2 separate regions of the Homo sapiens genome follow, and region 1 is linked to region 2. The links come from fine-mapping of genetic effects on gene expression. A gene starts in region 2. The other region holds a variant in brackets. All regions are shown on one strand. Distances are between the middles of the regions.

Region 1 (4,382 bases), 130 kb before region 2:
TGGTTAGCATCCAAGGTGACAGTGACTGCATTGAGGCGCTCTATTCTTCTTCACCTCTCAGGAACTGACTTTTATTTTTTCTGTCAACACCCAGTAATCTCCCTAACTAGTTTTAACCCTTATTCCTCCCTCATACCTAGCCATTTCTCCAAGGCGCAAATGGCCCTGGCTTCATTTATTCCTTTCCTTTCTATCCTTTTATATTTTTCCCTTCCCCACCCCCTCACTCAATGGTATAAAAGCTAGGACAGAGCACCTGACCTCAGTTGTCTTTGGCCATTGTGGGAAGTCATTATTCTGGAGACAAGAAAATCATCACTCTGGTGCCTTGGTGGCAGCACCACTGCCTGCTCCCTGGAAGGTAGACTATGGCATAAGTGTCAGCTCATTGTTTTCGTCTCCCACTTATCTTCCCCCTTCAAAGTGATTTTCTTTATAAGAAAATTTGGGCTCTGAATACTCCATTCTGCCTCACTTCCTTGACCTTGTTTTCCTCTCTTCGCCCTGACACCTGCTTCTAATGAGAAATGAAGTCAGTGCAAGGAGGAATGAGAGGTGGGGAGGGGAGATTGTTGAGAGATGGACTAGGAAGTGGAAGCAGGCTGGAAAGACACATATGGCGAAAGTCAAGTATCTGAGGCCACTTGCAACATTGTGACAAAGAAGATGGAAGATAGCAGCCTACTGGGCTGTGAGAATAGTGGTGAATTTGATTATTTCCAGTGGTTAGATTTAGCAGAGAGATTTACTTTCTTAGAAATTAATAGGGGAAATGGCACTTAATAGAGGTTTAATGGAATGAAGTACTTTCAACCCATTGATGAGAGTCATGGAAGTTTAGAGTGGCAAGACCCAGAGGTCATTAGGTCCAGCTTTCTATTATTGTGTCACAGGGACCCCTGCTACCACAGCTTTCACCCATGGGCATGGTCAGGTAGCCTCTGGTGGCTATGCATTTATTACTCAAAAGTTGGGCAACTCTAATAACGAGAGAGTTTTTCCTCATATCAGCTGAAGTCTGCCTGTGGATTCTCCTTGTAGTCCAGATCTACTATCTGCAACTCTTTAACGGCACTTGAGATATGTGCAGTGGGTGGTCTCCCCCTCAGTCTTACTTTGAGCTGCTGTTACTCTAGTCCTTTAAGTCATTCCTCATATGGCATGCTTTTCTTACCTGTCACATCTTGGCCATCCTCCTCTAGACAAAACCAGCCTTTAAAATATCATGTCCAGGCCTGGAAAGAATACAAATCCAGTGCAAAATTAAACCATTAGTTCTTGATGATAACCTAGCATTAATACTTACAGTATTTTCTTTTTGTAGGAGTTTTATCCCTTGGTTCACTTGAGTGTGCAAGTCATTAAATCCTCATCATTTTAGGGTTGCCAGTGATATTCAGTGTTTAGAGTGGTTCATTCCCTTAATATATACTACCTCTGTCTGTTAATTCTTTCCTAACATGACATGTAGCTCTCCATGGTCCTCCCTCTGAAACACCACATGCTGTTTAAACTAGAAGCTGTAATTCAAGATCCCAATTCCACCAGGTGCAGTGGCTCATGCCTGTAATCCCAGCACTTCAGGAGGCCGAGGTGGACAGATCACGAGGTCAGGAGTTCGAGACCATCCTGGCTAACACGGTGAAACCCAATCTCTACTAAAAATACAAAAAATTAGCCAGGCGTGGTGGCAGGCGCCTGTAGTCCCAGCTACTCAGGAGGCTGAGGCAGGAGAATGGCGTGAACCCGGGAGGCGGAGCTTGCAGTGAGCCTTGATCACGCCACTGCACTCCAGCCTGGGTGACAGAGCAAGACTCCATCTCAAAAAAAATAATAATAATAAATAAATAAAAAATCCCAATTACAGAACAGGAGATATGTTTCCTCTGACAAAACCCCATTTTTAGAGT[G/A]TATAAAATTCTGTCTTTCATTTCCAACCATTTTTCAAGAGAAGCTGCTACTATCTTGAGACTTCGTATTATCATGGGAGTACTGTAAGTTCAGTTCTCAGGGAATGCTAAATTAGAGTAATAAGTTTTATATCCTTCATTCTGGGAGAGGAAATCAACATAAGGTGTTGACTAATTGATTATCCTGGAACATTTTGAATATTGGGGAAGGAAGATGATACTTCTTTCTCAAGAAAAGAAAATTGGATTATTAGGAATACATCTTGACCCTTTTCCACTCAATAGACCAGGGAAAGGGGTTACAGAGAGCCTCCTCAGATCTGTTTGTGCCTTTCAAAAGTACTGGGGGCAGATTCTCAAAACTCTTAGATTGGTGTTGCATCCCTGCCACTTCACATGACCCTTCCATGTTAAAGCTGACTTTTCTTGCCAGAAAGTTTTCCTTGTGACAAGAAATTTGCAAGCTTTTCAATCTCAGGAATACTGGATTCTATAGCCAAGAACTCATGAAAGTAAGTGTAAACTATCCTAGGTAATTTCAGGTACTTTCTCTTATGCAATTAATTTTATTAACTGATTTCTGGTCTATCTCCAGAGATAAAATACCATTCCTTCACAACTGTATTGTCTGGAAGCCCCATGAGATGGTAATTATAGGCCTTCTACTAGCCAGCAGTTCTCTCTGGATACTGGCATCAGCAGGTCTCCTTTTTCTTGTGCTGCTTGGACAGGTACCTACTGCTGGCCTCTTCAGTGGCCACAATCCTCAGTCCTCACCTGCTGGTTTGGAGACTCATGAGCACCCCAGGCAGCTCAAGCTGAATAAATAGCTGCAGACATGGCCAACAACATGGGGCTCAGGTCTGTCACTTAACTTAGAGTCTTTACATGAAATATCAGAATGGGAAAGAGAATGTTCCTGGTAAAACTCTGTTTTCATTAATTTGTTATTTTTCAAAAACCGAGCCACACCTTTGGAAGTAATGATTTGGCCATTCCAGAGATTCTGGGGCTAAAGTTTGTTTTTCCAGGGCTGCTGATCCTTTTCCAGATAGCTCCAGAGTATGATGACCCCAGCCCCATCCCAATCTCTAGCGAAAGGGTTATGCAAATCTCAGGGTGTTGCCTCTAAAGAATCTAAAGAATAGACATGCTTTGGGCTTACTCAGTGTACCAGATTCTCTAGTGGGCCATTCTCATTTGATGTTCCCTAGAACCTCCCTGTCTTCCAACTGCAGGATGTGTTTACTTCTCTTCTGGGCTTCCCCTGGTTTCTGTCCTAGTTCCCACCCCAAGTTTAAGAAGACTTAGATTCATTTATTGCTATCTGAGGCCACTAGTGAGATTTCAGATCTCTCTTTTGCAACATTTTACCCATTTCCCTTCCCCAAACCATGTGCTTATTAGATGGTTCCACTCAGGAAGCAAGGAAGCTAAAACTCAAGTTAATGGTCTGTGGATCCCACGAAAGTGTGTGTAAACTACTGACTGTTTCTCCACTAGAGGCATTTAATTGAGCCAAAGATGATGGAAGAAGAAACTCTCAAAGCCATGTACTTTGTTAGGTGTCTGGATTTTTGGCCTGTTTGCAGCCTCTCCTAGCCACAGACAGACACTGTCTCCTCTCAGAGAAAGGCCAGTGTTTCGGTCCAGGCCACTGGTGAGTGTCGGCACCCTTGAGGTGGGCATGGAGTGAGCAGAAGAAGCCTGGAGAAGAGAGAACTATTTAAAAGTGTTGCCAGTTATTCAGCTTCCAGGCGGCTTTGCACCTCCAAAGGTGCAAAAAGGAAAAAGAAAGCAGAAAGGATTCAGCATTTAAGCAGAAAGAAAAGGGAAATTCTACTCTACCAGATGAGCCACTGGTTCCACTGGAGCTTATCAGTGAAGTAACACTGCAGGAGCCCTGGTATCCTTCCCTCAGAGATATCATCAGGGGCCCTCAAACCCCATTGTTTATGCCAGCACTGACCGCACTTTAAGCACACACTTACCAATCAGAGGTCGTGTAATTGGCCTAAATCTAGGCCCAGTTATTACTACAAATCTTAGTCACCATACTCTCTCGCCCAGGCTGGAGTGCAGTGGTGTGATCTCAGCTCACTGCAACCTCCACCTCCCAGGCTCAAGGGATCCTCTCACCTCAGCTCCCGAGCAGCTAGGACTGCAGGTGTGCACCACCATGCCCAGCTAATTTTTGAATTTTTTTGTAGAGATGGGGTTTTGCCATGTTGCCCAGGCTGGTCTGAAGCTGCTGGGCTCAAGCAATCCACCTGGCTGGGCCTCCCAAAGCGATAGGATTACAGGCGTAAGGGCCCACGCCCAGCCTACCATACTGATTTTCAAGGCAGGGTCTAACCCTTCATAAGATGTGAGTTCTTCCAACCCAATAAGCAGGCAGCTTTGAGGACAAAAAGGCAACATTAAAAGATAAGACCCTAGAAGTCAGAACATCTGTATTCCAAGGCCACCCCT
Region 2 (4,382 bases):
CCTGGACTGCAGAACAAAGCAGACTCCCAGCAGAGTGGTCTGGTCTCTCTTCCTCCAGGGAATGGTGGGCCAGGTCTATGTGAGGCTATAACCTAGAAACTTTCCTCTGCCTCCCTCTCCTCCTCCTTTGGCAAGACAAGGAGGGGAGAAGGTAAGGATTAAGCCCAAAAGATCTCCAGAAAAAGCCAAGCCTCTGGGGGGAGTCCTAGAGGGTGAAGCCAGGGATCTGCCTGGCAGCCAAGCAGAGCAGAGGCAGCCACCCTGAGGGAAAGGTGGTTCAGTCGGGGTTCAGTGGGCACTGGCCATTTTCCAGGGGCATGGGAGGAGATGGGTTGGAGTTGGACTCCCTAGGCTGCAGTGTGCCTGGCGTGGACCCCTGACGCTGACTCACCCCCAGGGCCCTGACACACGCTGCAGCTTGCAGTGCCTGCCAGACCACCACTCTCATTCCACAGGACCAGGATGCCAGGCACGTCCCACTGCATCAGAGCCACCCTGCCCCCTTCCACCTGCCACTCGGGCCCGCCTTTGGGGCACTGGGCATGGCTTTTTTCAGCACCTCTGCTGGTCACAGAGATGTTTCTAGCAGCCCCAAAGCTGGACTTAGTCTTAAGTAGGGAGAGATGGTTGAAAGGATTAAGGGCTTCCCTGCTTCTGTCACCCCCTCTAATGAAGTGCCAGGTTATGGGGATCCAGACAGATTGGATGGAGGACAATCTATTCCACCTGGGAGAGGCCCCGCAGGGCGGCAGCAGTAGGGGAGGGAGAAGGGCACCCTTTTGCTTTCCAGGTCAGACCCCAGTTCACCTTTCTGGCTTCCTGGGCGCCCCCAGATCCTAAGGACTTCCTCCTCCTTATAAGCTAACTCAACCTGTACTACCTGCCCACGGGGCCTCTGCCCTTCCCTCCCCACTGCAGTGGCCCCTCCTGGGCCAGCACCTCTTCTGTCCTTGCACTCCCTTCTCCTGCTGCGGGGAGAGCACCTACTCTGCCACCTCAGCCAGGGGTAAGGGAGGACACTGCCCTGCCAGGAGACACCCCACGAGCCATGGGCTGGGGGTGTCCTGGAGGCACCTGTGGAATGTGGGGATGAAAAGGGAGGAGACAGGATGAGGGGGCCTGGCTTAGTGGGATGTGAAACGATAAAGCTCCACTTTTTAGTTGAAAAATAAAAGCCCTGTGCCCCAGAGGTGGGGGAAGGAGCATAGGCAGGGGAAGGGGGCACCCCAAATGGGAAAGGTACATGGAAGAGTCCAGAAAAGGGAGTCGGGCTGTCAGCACCCGCCAGGCTGCGAGCCTAGCCCTTGGGGACAGAGCTGAAGCAGGGACGGGGCGTCCTAGGTCGTGCTGAGTCATGAGATTTGGAGAGAGGGGAGGGGCGCCTCCAGCCCCTTCTTGGGCCCCTGCCCCAGCTCCTCGTGCCCGTTGCTTCCAGATGGCCCCTGCAGTCTGTCTCCCCAACCTCTCCCTGACCCAGGGTCTCCGGCTCCCAGCGCCCAGACCCCACCCCCCGCCCCACTTCCCACGACGGCGGTGCCAGGGGTCCCCGAAGCTTGAGACTGGGGCAAAAGAACCTTCCTTGGAGACCGCTAGGGCTGGCGGGGGCTGGGCTAGACGCGAGTGGGTTCGTCCCAGGGAAAGGAGAGAGGGACGGGGGCGCAGAGCCGGCCGGTGCAGGGGACGCGTGGCCCGCCCCTCTCTGCAGCAACCCGCGGGAGGAAATCTGCCCCCAGCCCAGCCCCAGTCCCTCAGAGGAGCCGGCTCCTCGCCCCTCGGGTCCGACTCCCCGAGACGAACCTTCCATCCGGACGCTTCCAAACTCCCCCAAAGGACGGGGCAGACTCCCGGCCCCCTTGGCCTCAAACTTCCCCAACCCTACTCACCTCTCGGGACCCAGACCACCCCGTGGCCCCTCGACTCAGTAGCAGGAAAGGAGAAACTTTGGAGAGGGAGGTCCGTGCCCCCACCGGCGGGGGTATGGACTTACCGGAGAGCGACCCGAAGGAGGCGGGAGAGATCCGGGGTCTCCAATGTGAGGGGGCGTCGGACGGCAAGGACGCGTGGCTGGCGACGGTTTCGCAGGGGCGCCCGTTCCCCTGGGGGCGCGAAGTCCCCGCTCCACCGCTGCCCCAACTCGGCTCCGAAGTGCCTTTGCCGCAAGACTTGCTGAGCTTAGCAGTCTGCGCCGAGGCGGCAGAGGGAGGGGGCCTGATCGATGGGCGCGCGCGGCGAGCGCTGCAGTGAGGGGAGGAGACCAAGCGGCGTGGGAGGGCGGGGACCGAGGCGGAGGAGGCCCGGAGGAGGCGGAGGGCGGGCCTGCCCCCCGGGACGGGTTCTTTCTGCGCAGCCCCCCAGGCGCTCGGCGCCCCCGCCTCCTGCTCAAGGTCAAGGAGGCTGCTTCCCCAGCAGGAAGGCGGACTGGAAAGGAGCTCTATACTCCCCACCCCAGAAGGCTGGTCTCCTTTCTAGCCAGCTCCTTCTCTCCAACTTCCCGAACCCACTGCAGCTCAAGGCTAAATTATTGGGCTCAGGAGCCCCCATCCCCATGGCCATTTTGGGATCCCTGAGCCCCTAGCCTCCCCTCCTCCCCTCTCCGCTTAGGTCACCGCTACCTATATTGGCCACCTGGATGGTGGGGGCTTCTGAGCCTAAAGGTTGGGTGAGAGAGAGGAGGATGCTTGAGAGAAGACAGCGGTGCCTGAGGCCTATGGAAATAGAACAGCGGAGGGGAGAGTAAGAACTGCAGGGTGACAAGGAGAGAGGAGCTGGAAGACGGTAGAAAGAAAAGGAGGACGCTACTGGTTATTAAAGACAGGGTGTTCACACATGTTAGTTTGCTTAATACGTAAGACATCCCTTTAAGGTGGGCATTTTGCGTGGGCAGTTTGCAGGTGGGGAAACAGTCCCTGAATGGTGCGTTGGACCAAGGAGCTGCAGACAGTTAAGTGGTGGCATTTCGGAAGAGCCTGGGAGAAAGAGAAGGGTGGCAAGGGCAAAACAGAGCCCTTCCTAACCTACCCAGGAGCTGCCAGGGCAGCACCAGAACTTCCTTACAGCACAATTTGAATATCCGCTTTAACTCTTTTGGAGTTAACTTTTTTTTTTCTTTTTTTTTTAGACAAGTCTCACTCTGTTACCCAACCTGCAGTGCAGTGTGCAGTGGCGCGATCTTGGCTCACTGCCACCTCTGCCTCCTGGGTTGAAGGGATTCTCCCGCCTCAGCCTCCCGAGCAGCTGGGATTACAGACGTGCGCCACCACACCCGGCTAATTTTTGTATTCTTAGTAGAGATGGGGTTTTGCCATGTTGGCCAGGCTAGTCTCGAACTCCTGACCTCAAGGGATCCACCCACTTCAGCCTCTCAAAGTGCTGGGATTACAAGCATGAGCCACTGCGCTTGGCCTGGAGTTAACTTTTATAATAGGACTGTAGCATCCTGCCTCGCTTTTGGGTACAAAACCGTACATGGCCTGAGGTCAGTCTTCAATACGTACTAGGTGAGTGAGTGAGAGGTGGAATGAATGCAATATGAGGAGATGCAAAGAACAAGTGGGATTCAGGCTTTGGGGAGAGAAGAGGCAGTGGAGGGCACTTTTCAGATCACTGTGCCAATAATACCAGGTGTTACTGGCAGACCATCCCCAGTTGGAGACTATCCCCAGTTTGGCTTGCCTCAGAGCAAGGCGGCAAGTGGCTGCCGACTCAGTGGATGTTACGAAAAAGGTGGGGGAAGACCTCTGGGGAGTCCTCAATCAGGCTGAAGCTGTGCTCACAGCCCCTGAGGCACAGAGGCCCTCCCCCTTCACCTGTGGAGCAGCCAGAACAAGGGCAGTGGAGGAAATGGGGAGCCAAGTTACAATGGACTAATGAGACCTTTACATTCAAAGAGGTTACCCACCACCCCCACCCTTAGCCAGGTGTGTTCCAGGACTTGTTGCTTCCCCAAAGGGGCTGGCTCTACTCTATTCATTCCTTCCTGCTCCCCATGCCAACAACCAGTATCTGCAGGACTCCAGCCAGAAAGAGGGCTGCAGCCCCCTCGCACAGAATCAAGCCAAGCGAACTGGCCTGATGCGCTTCAACTTTTCCACGGCAGCAGACTCAGCTGCCTACTGTTCTGATCAAAGCCTTGTGTCAATCTGGTGCCCCAGCTTCTTCTCCTAAGCACGTCAGAGGAAGCCAGCCTGCCTTCCCAGGCTATTAGGAGAGTCAGAGCTGTAATCAATTTGGTTAAATGAAAAATGTGGTGTCGCTGGCTACAGCCTTAATGTTCTTTTAATTCATCAGGACCAGTAGTGTCTGGGTTACAAACCTAATCAAGAGCTCAACATCCCTCTTGCTTATTCCCCCAGGCTTCAGGAGCTGGAAGAGGAAAGAATGGA

Alleles and levels. Alleles are on the strand shown, and positions count from the first base shown. SD is a standard deviation of normalised expression in the study named.
As copies of A replace G in region 1, the expression in tibial artery of the gene that starts at base 2,184 in region 2 goes up (small effect, 0.15 SD a copy in GTEx).

What was found. PIP is the estimated chance that this variant, and not a neighbour inherited with it, causes the effect.
Region 1: its variant is the best candidate, but not a certain one, in a credible set for the expression of SYT2 in tibial artery (GTEx, PIP 0.74).

The regions. Positions count from the first base shown.
Region 1 is chr1:202,581,062-202,585,443 of GRCh38, forward strand. PPP1R12B (protein phosphatase 1 regulatory subunit 12B) reads left to right here. Exons shown (of 24, transcript NM_002481.4): 24 at 1-4,382. Among named protein-coding and RNA genes, the nearest start is that of SYT2, 130 kb to the right of the region's middle. The variant G/A (reference allele first, on the strand shown) is at 1,911.
Region 2 is chr1:202,708,271-202,712,652 of GRCh38, forward strand. SYT2 (synaptotagmin 2) reads right to left here and starts at 2,184. Exons shown (of 9, transcript NM_177402.5): 1 at 1,988-2,184.